Regions from separate parts of the Homo sapiens genome. Here region 1 is linked to region 2. The links come from fine-mapping of genetic effects on gene expression. A gene starts in region 2. The other region holds a variant in brackets. All regions are shown on one strand. Distances are between the middles of the regions. Region 1 overlaps TMEM269 (transmembrane protein 269). Region 2 holds the start of P3H1 (prolyl 3-hydroxylase 1).

Region 1 (4,389 bases), 31 kb before region 2:
TTACGTGCCATTCATTATTCTAGGTGTTTTACATTCATCCACATAAAACATCACGGTTGTTCAATCCACAAAACAACCCTGAAAGGAAGTAAATCCTCCATTTTACAGATAGGAAAATAGGCTTAGAGAGATTAAACGTTTTATTCAAGGTCACAGGGCTAAAAGAGTAGCAGAATTCTCAGTCACTTGATTCCGCTTATCAGACACAGAAGTAGGACTTCAGGTTAGGAAGAAGGGACTAGAAGTTGACCAGGAGGGAAATCTACACTCTCTCTCAAGCTTAGGACAAAGAGAACTGCCTAAACCCCACTGGCTTCATGTATGCATTTGAGAAGTGCAGATTTTAAAGTCTTGGCCTTCTCCCTTGTTCCTAAGAGGAAGCCCAAGAAGAGACATTCTATTTTAGAAAACCACTGTCTGAGGAAGTGAAGGCATTGAATGAGTAGCCTTAGTATCTGAGACCCTCAAGCCCGTATAGAAGTATAACCATACTCTCAGAGAGGTGCAAGGAAGCATAGATCCCTCTGTTAACCGGCTGTCAGCTGACCTATAACTATCCTAGTGTCATTAACCTACAAAAAAAACTGGAGGCAATTAAGTATGAATTATTGCCATTACAATCAAGCGATAATTTACACATCCAAATGGGCATTTTACTTTTCAAAGCTGTCCTCCTGGGGGTCTGTATATTTCTCTCTGCTGCTGTCACTTAAAATGGACATGGAAATTCTCTTTCAGAATTGCATCTTTTTCCTTTCAACATAGTTTCAAATTTTAGAAACAGCCACAAGGCATTTGAGTCCAAATATGATACCTAATTTGATTTAAGAATACGACATAATTGGCTAATCTCAAATGTTAGGTTTTTGGAAAAAATTTAGTTCAGAATAAAACCTGTTTTTCGCTTTTGGTGGTGGTGGTGTTGTTCCAGCTGCTTGGTCCTTAAGAATTTATGTGAAGACCATTTTCAGATTGGAGTTCCTAAAATGCTTTGATTAAGGGGAGCATCACATTGAAATGGATGTACAGCATTGAAGGACATTGTATTGAAATGTCTAAGCTCGTGTATATTTGTAAAATTCTTACCACATTATAGAAACCTTGTATGTAACTTACTAGAATCCACAACTAAATCAATTCATATACAAAGGGAACATTTCTGAGTGTCAGGCACTATGGCAGATAGCAAAAATACAAAACTTAAACTGAAGGAGATATAAAGTCCTGGGACACAGGCAAATCCATCTAACTAGGAACATATGAATGATTTAACAGGAAGGCACCGTCTATTCTGTTACAGTCAAATCTTACTTTGGGTTTTTATTTTTAAACATCTAATTTGAGAATAGATGTATATTTACCACATACATTGTTCTGGAAACTTAAAAAAGTTATATCCAGGGTAGAAGGTGTTCTGGCACAGTCTCTGAGGGTGGAGCAGAACCAGCCATCAATCCTTTTTTCCACCATCTGGGAGGTGGAATGTCTATCTACGCTGGGGGCTCAGTGGACCTGAGTTCTCGGTGAGGTACACCTTTGCCATACAGTACTGTTTATTTCTATTTGATTTGGATTTTAGAATATGAAGTGGCATCTGAATAGCTAGAGTTTAGTAGTTTCCAGCGTAGGAAAGAAAATCCACACGAGATCCTGCAAGCCAGATGATGCCCTGTGTCACCAATGTATCTAACTGCTAAACAAAGCAAAAGGCGGCAGCTTTGAACTATTAAAATACAGAATGTAGGCCGGGCGCGGTGGCTCACGCTTGTAATCCCAGCACTTTGGGAGGCCGAGGCGGGCGGATCACGAGGTCAGGAGATCGAGACCATCCTGGCTAACACGGTGAAACCCCCGTCTCTACTAAAAATACAAAAAATTAGCCGGGCGAGGTGGCGGGAGCCTGTAGTCCCAGCTACGCGGGAGGCTGAGGCAGGAGAATGGCGTGAATCCCGGGGGGCGGAGCCTGCAGTGAGCCGAGATCGCTCCACTGCACTCCAGCCTGGGTGAAAGAGCGAGACTCCTTCTCAAAAAAAAAAAAAAAAAAAAAAAAAAAACCCAGAATGTTGAAGTTACAAAATCCTACACACATTCAAACTAGGCAACAAGAGAGTCCTGTGATTGGCTCTACTCTCAGAGCCAGAGTCTGCAAGAGTAAGAAATGCTTCAGGAAGCCCCACCAGGCAGGGCTGAGGCTGAGGCCAATACCAGTTCTGAAGGCT[C/G]TCACTCCTTTCCAAGGGATGGACCTTAGTAGCACACAGTCACCCGGCTGGTAATGGAGCTGGAACCCAAACCCAGCCCACATTGAGCTTGAGGCGGGGGGATATTCTGCTCTACATGACATAAACAAGTATTGTCCGCAAGGGAGTCAGAACCCTGAATAAAGACAAAGAAGTGAAGTTCACTGACCCTGCTTTGGGTTTCTAACTTCATGGCAACAGACATACCATATATCTAGTATATGGCAACACAGGTACATACAAAGCTTTAGTGCAGGCTTGACCCAATATGCTGACACAAACCCCACAGAGGCCGGCAGGAGCTGGTAGAGCTGCTTAGCTTCCTCAGTGCTGTGGCGAAAGACAGGCTGCCTTGCCCCACAGAGCATCTGGAAAGAAGATGTACGAGAGCGACCACATCAGGCAGTAAAAAGCAGACAGAGACAATGGGGAGAAAAACAGCATGATGACACCTGGAAGAACAAAAAGTGCAGACACTCAATTTCTAGGAAGCTGTCTTCTATGCTTTCTACCCTCTACTCTCCCGTCCCCACCCTCCCATTCTTTACTTTTCACCCACAGTGCCTAAGAAACAAACAGAAAGAGACAGGAGCCCTGTCTTCAAGTTCAGTTTAATAGAGATAGGTAAGTAACTAGAGAAGTATAGCCCAATGCAGTCTCAGGTTCCACTGTGTCAAATTCACATCAGAAGTTCCAGCCAATAATAAATCTGAATTGCCTTTGTTAGGGAAAACAAAACAAACCAAGACAAAAACCAAAAACCCTTGTTAGGAAAAAAAAATCTTCCTCATTGTTTTAAATTTAACATGTGATAACGACCAATGCAGTATGATATGTATGCAGAAAAGAGTTTACGTGCAGGCCTGAGACTGCTATCCTCAGAAAGGCCTTCTTGCAAGGCTGGCCCTTGGCTGATGGCTGGAAACTTGAATAGTAAACAGTTCCCTAGACCAACATAAAACTTTCCCCAACTGATAAGAGTGTCTCACTGTTCCTAGACTGTCCATATAAGCACGGTGGTAACACCTGGTTTCCTTCTGGGAATCTGGAATTTTGGTACATGGTAGGCACAGGGTGCTGACATGACCATCCCCCAGTAAAACTTGGGCACTGAGTCTCTCATCAGTTTCCCTGGTAGCCAACACTTTATTGTATTATCACAATTCAGTGCTGAGGAATTAAGTGCATCTCGTGTGACTCTACTGGGAGAGGACTCTCTGAAGCTTGCACCTGGTTTCCCCTGAACTTTTTCCCATGCACCTTTTCCCTTTGCTGATTTTGCTTTACATCCTTTTGCTGAAATCAATCTTAGCCATGAGTACAACAAGCTGAGTCCTGTGAGTCTTCTCAGGGGTGGTCTTGGGGACTCCCAACACAATTTGCATCTCAGATTCGCCACCAAAAGGCAAAAGAGCACTCACGTTTGTGGAATATCTATTTTGCACTAGACATTCTGCTAGATGTGTACATTTTTTTCATTTACACTTCACAATAATCCCGTGGTTTAGAACTAAGTCTGTTTTTCATAAGAAGAAACAGAAGTAACCTGTACGAGGTCCTGATTCAAACCCACTTCTGCTTGACTCTTAAAAACTAGACACACTGCCTCAGGGAGCTCAAAAAGAGGACAAAGAGAGTATGAGCCAATGGTATTTCCATGGGAATGATCACCATGTATCCTGTAAGAGAAATCAGAACATATGATCTGATAGAAGACCACTTCTAGGAGTAATAAGCAGTTAAGGATATGCATGGGCATTTTGGAATACTGTATTTCAAGAATAGTCATTGATCTGTTGAGGCAAAAAGACAATACTGAAAACCAGAGTTGTCTTGGAAAGTACATGGCTGGCGCGTTGGCTCATGCCTGTAATCACAGTACTTTGGGAGGCCAAGGCAGGAGGATTGCTTGAATCCATGAATTTGAGATCAGCCTGGACAAAAGAGTGAGACCCCTCTCTACCATGTATGTATGATTTTCGGCTACTCCCTGTAAAAAAAAAAAAAAAAAGTATTTCATATAAGGTTTCAGAGTGCTGGTCACAGGCCAGTTCTCAGACGTACGAAGCTCTGTGGGGTAGAAGGGACCTCAGTCTAAGAAGGTGACTGGCTGCACTCCAAATAAGAGGAATGTCCACAGAAGCCATTTTGA
Region 2 (4,389 bases):
CTCGGATTACAAGCGTGAGCCACTGCACCCAGCCCACCACCATTTTTTTTTCTTTTTAGACTTGCTCTGTCACCCAGGCTGGAGTGCAGTGGTGTGATCTCAGCTCACTGCAACCTCTGCCTCCCAGGTTCAAGCAGTTCTCCCGCCTCAGCCTCCAGAGTAGCTTCGGACTACAGGCACACACCACCATGCCCGGCTAATTTTTTGTATTTTAGTAGAGACAGGGTTTCACATGTCGCCCAGGTTGGTCTCCAACTCCTGAGCTCAGGCAATCCTCCCGCCTTAGCCTCCCAAAGTGCTAAGATTACAGGCGTGAGCCACCACACCCAGCCTCATTTTTTTGTTTTTTTTTAAGAGTCTCACTCTGTCACCAATTCTGGAGTACAGTGGTGCGATCTCGGCTCACTGCAACCTCTGTCTCCTGGGCTCAAGCGATTCTCATGCCTCAGCCTCCCGAGTAGCTGAGACTACAGGCATGAGTCACCACACCTTTTAGTAGAGACGGGGTTTCACCATGTTGGCCAGACTGGTCTCGAACTCCTGACTTCAAATGATCCACCCACCTTGGCCTCCCAAAGTGCTGGGATTACAAGTGTGAGCCACGGCACCTGGCCAAAAAGTACATTTTAGATAGTTAATATGTTTGATTCAATTTGTTTGTCTCTAAAGTTTTTTTTTTCTTCAGCTTCTCAAATACAGATTGTATTGGGGAAACAGAGGCAGCATAATAATGCATCCTCTGTATTTCATAAGATTATAGGATGAAAGACAAAAACTGTGTTCTTTCTTCCATCTGTTCAGGCCATCGTAATAAACACGATAGTCATTCAATAGCACATGAATACGTTGTGTGCACAAGATTCTGTCCCTGCCAACCTCCCTCCCAATAAGAGTAATCTGATTAACTAGATGCATATTCTCTTAATAAATAAAAGTTGCACTTTGCTCCCCAGCTCTTCAAAAAGAAGAAAGCCAAGTTTTGAATTAAAGGAGCTTTCTGCGTATCTGAATTTTTCTTAATTTTAAAAAAAAAAGGATTCGAAGGATTTCTAGGATCATTGAAAAAAAAAGAGATGTGAGGGAATTTGAGCACATTAAATAATTTTGGGCAAAGCAAAGACCCTGGAACATAATCAAGGCCAAATCTGATAGTGTATACAGGGATAAGGGGCCATGATAATCTTTAAAACAGCAGGACCCTCCATCTGTGGACACTGAAGAGGGTGTACAACTGGAAGTCTTGATAAGAGATAAGAAGGAATCTGGTTTTTCATTGAATAATGACAAAACTTTAGATCTTGGAGCTCTACTACTTCAAACCTTTCACTTCACAGATAAAATAGTTGAGGTCCAGAGAGAAGTAATCTGCCTTAAGTCGCACTGCAAGTTAGTATCAAAAGTGGGATTAATACTCATGTGTCCAAACTTCCAGTGTTTTTTCCATTATTTCACATTTCCTCCTTATTTGACTTATTTTGGCCATCCATATATAAACACTGGGCTTGGGAATACTGTGTTTAATGAGGACTAAACTTGGAGTCCTTGCCCTGCTAGAAGATGTTTAAACTCTCAGGTAACAAAGATCTTATGGGAAGCAGCTTAAAATAAGCGGACCTTGAAACTTCCCGAAGAACTTTTCTTTGTGTCAAATGGGAAGAATAACTCTGTACTGCCTACCTCACAAGGCTGTCCTAAGGTGCAAATGAAATAATGAACACTAAAGTGTTGTGTAAACCTTCCCACGAAGGAAGATTATGGGCACTCAAGTTGCAGTTAGAGGAACCTTTGGTCCCAGAAGGTCATTCGAATCAGGCCACCGACTCACAATGACAGTCGGCTTTACTCGTCTGTAAAATGGAGACAAGAGCAAATGCCACCCCCACCATAGGTGGTAGTGAGGTCTGAGCCGAAAGACGCAGAGTACAACGTGAACGAAGATGGTTATTCGCTGCCCCGGCCGCGCCTCCTCACCTTCTGCACCTGCTCTGCGAGCGCCACGAGGTCTAAGGGGTCCCCGGCCCGGTGGGTGTGGTAGGGGCTCACCAGGGCCAGGCCGCCGGGGGTCGGGGTGAGCTCCACCAGGGCTCCTGCGACACACACCCAGGAACACAAGCCGTGAGCTCCCGCCGTCGGCCTCCCGCGGAGCCCCGAGACCGGCTGCCTCGCGGGAGCTGACTTCCCCCTGCTGACTCCCGCCCCGCATACCTCCCTGGCCTGCAGCTGGCGGCGCTCCTTGCCTTTCAAGGACCCCCTCGGTCCGCCCCGGCGCGGCGGCGTCCTCCATGACAGCGCCTTATCCTCCCCACTCCCTGGGCTGTGCGAGTAGGAAGAGCCTGCGCATAAAGGCGCGTGGGCGGAGCTTCCGTCTTTCTTGTCTACTGGGCGTCAGTTCGACTGAGCAAGGCCTGAGCTCGGAGGCGGGGCTCCGGCTGACGCGCCGGGATTCGCTGAGGGCCGGTGGGGGGATCCGGGCTGACTGAAAGGAAAAGAGGCGGTGCAAGCCTCGTGGGCATGCGCCGCCCGGCTTGGAAGGTGGGGCTTCGCCCGGGGGCGGGCCTTCGCCGGGGGTAGGACTCCGGCCTTGGTGGCGGGTGGCTGGCGGTTCCGTTAGGTCTGAGGGAGCGATGGCGGTACGCGCGTTGAAGCTGCTGACCACACTGCTGGCTGTCGTGGCCGCTGCCTCCCAAGCCGAGGTCGAGTCCGAGGCAGGATGGGGCATGGTGACGCCTGATCTGCTCTTCGCCGAGGGGACCGCAGCCTACGCGCGCGGGGACTGGCCCGGGGTGGTCCTGAGCATGGAACGGGCGCTGCGCTCCCGGGCAGCCCTCCGCGCCCTTCGCCTGCGCTGCCGCACCCAGTGTGCCGCCGACTTCCCGTGGGAGCTGGACCCCGACTGGTCCCCCAGCCCGGCCCAGGCCTCGGGCGCCGCCGCCCTGCGCGACCTGAGCTTCTTCGGGGGCCTTCTGCGTCGCGCTGCCTGCCTGCGCCGCTGCCTCGGGCCGCCGGCCGCCCACTCGCTCAGCGAAGAGATGGAGCTGGAGTTCCGCAAGCGGAGCCCCTACAACTACCTGCAGGTCGCCTACTTCAAGGTGCAGACCTGCCTGGAACCAGGCGGCCGGGGTCCTTCTGGGGAGAGGAGTGTTGCAGGGGACCTGAGGAGCTTGGGGGATCGGGGAAGTGTCCGCAGGGAGGGGAAAGTGGCCTCCTGGCTGGGGAGCTCTCCTCGGAGCCGGGGAGAGCTGCTCCCTGGCAGGAGACCTTCCTCGCCCAGTTCGCATGGGCAGATGCTAACCCCAAAGGTCCAGCCTGGGGTTAGGGCACAGGCCAAGCAAAACTCATGGCCATTTTGTTCCCTGGGAAATCTCCTGGAAGGAATTAAAGCGGCAGTTTGGGTCTCCCATTCTGATGTCATTGTAAGTGTCCGAGTGAGAAGCTAGTAGCGGTCTACAATATCTCCCTTCCGGTTGGTTTTCCAGTGGTGCTTTTCCTGCTGTTTGATTCAGCAGCTCTCTTTCAGGATGTGAGGTTGCCACGTCGCCAGCAGGGGCTGCCTGGCCCTTTCTGTGTGTGTGTGGGGGCGGGGGGGGGACCCTCTGGCTAGTCTGCCAGGTTTACAAAGAAAATGAGTATTTTTCGGAATGCCAGAGTGCCATGTGTCCAAGTGTACACTTGGGCTTGGAGCGTTCCAGGCTTGTTTGGTGGTGGTGATGGTGACGATGATGATGATGATGATAGCCAGCACATACTTCCAGGCACTATTTTAAGCAGTTTGCATTTATTAACGCATTTGCCCTAATCTTCATAATATCTTGTCAGGTAGATGCTGTTATTAGTCCCACTGTATTGGGGGTGGGGGGAGAAAGAGTTGTGCATTATATCTGGTATATCTGTTGTTTAAAAGACCTTCGATTCGATCTAAAGAGACACTTAGAGACTCTTGGGGACCTCAGATTTCCACCCCTCCACAGCATTCTGCCTACACAGTTCCCCTCATTTTTCCTAGTTACTCGGAAGAGCGCTGGACTTGAAATCAAAATAATTGCGTTATGTCTTTGGTTATGTCGCTTCATCATAGCACTTTCTAAAACTATTTGACAAACATGTATTGCATACCTACTGCATTCCAGTTCTTGTACAAGTAATTAAATGCTCGACTAACGTCTTTGCTTTGTCTTGCTTTGCTGTTAAGAGTTACTGTAGTAAGGGCTACTGCAAGGGCATATACTTAGGGCTGCGGGAGCACAAAGGAGGGAGACTCTAGCTTTATCTCAGAGAAATTAGACTTCAAAGAAGAGGTAATATTGAAGCCTGCCCTAAGTATTGCCAGGGGGAGAGGAAAGAAGGCTCCTCCAGATAGAGAGAAAAGTAGAACCAAAGCATGATGTATTC

What was found. PIP is the estimated chance that this variant, and not a neighbour inherited with it, causes the effect.
Region 1: its variant is the best candidate, but not a certain one, in a credible set for the expression of P3H1 in whole blood (TOPMed, PIP 0.52).

The regions. Positions count from the first base shown.
Region 1 is chr1:42,796,398-42,800,786 of GRCh38, reverse strand. It overlaps TMEM269 (transmembrane protein 269), which reads right to left. Exons shown (of 6, transcript NM_001354602.2): 6 at 1-2,689. The coding sequence ends at 2,562. Among named protein-coding and RNA genes, the nearest start is that of TMEM269, 14 kb to the right of the region's middle. The variant C/G (reference allele first, on the strand shown) is at 2,220.
Region 2 is chr1:42,765,207-42,769,595 of GRCh38, reverse strand. P3H1 (prolyl 3-hydroxylase 1) reads left to right here and starts at 2,568. Exons shown (of 15, transcript NM_022356.4): 1 at 2,568-3,089. The coding sequence starts at 2,625. It overlaps C1orf50 (chromosome 1 open reading frame 50), which reads right to left and starts at 2,347. Exons shown (of 5, transcript NM_024097.4): 1 at 2,206-2,347; 2 at 1,972-2,087. The coding sequence starts at 2,284. RefSeq lists silencers at 2,060-2,199, 2,820-2,929 and an enhancer at 3,190-3,309.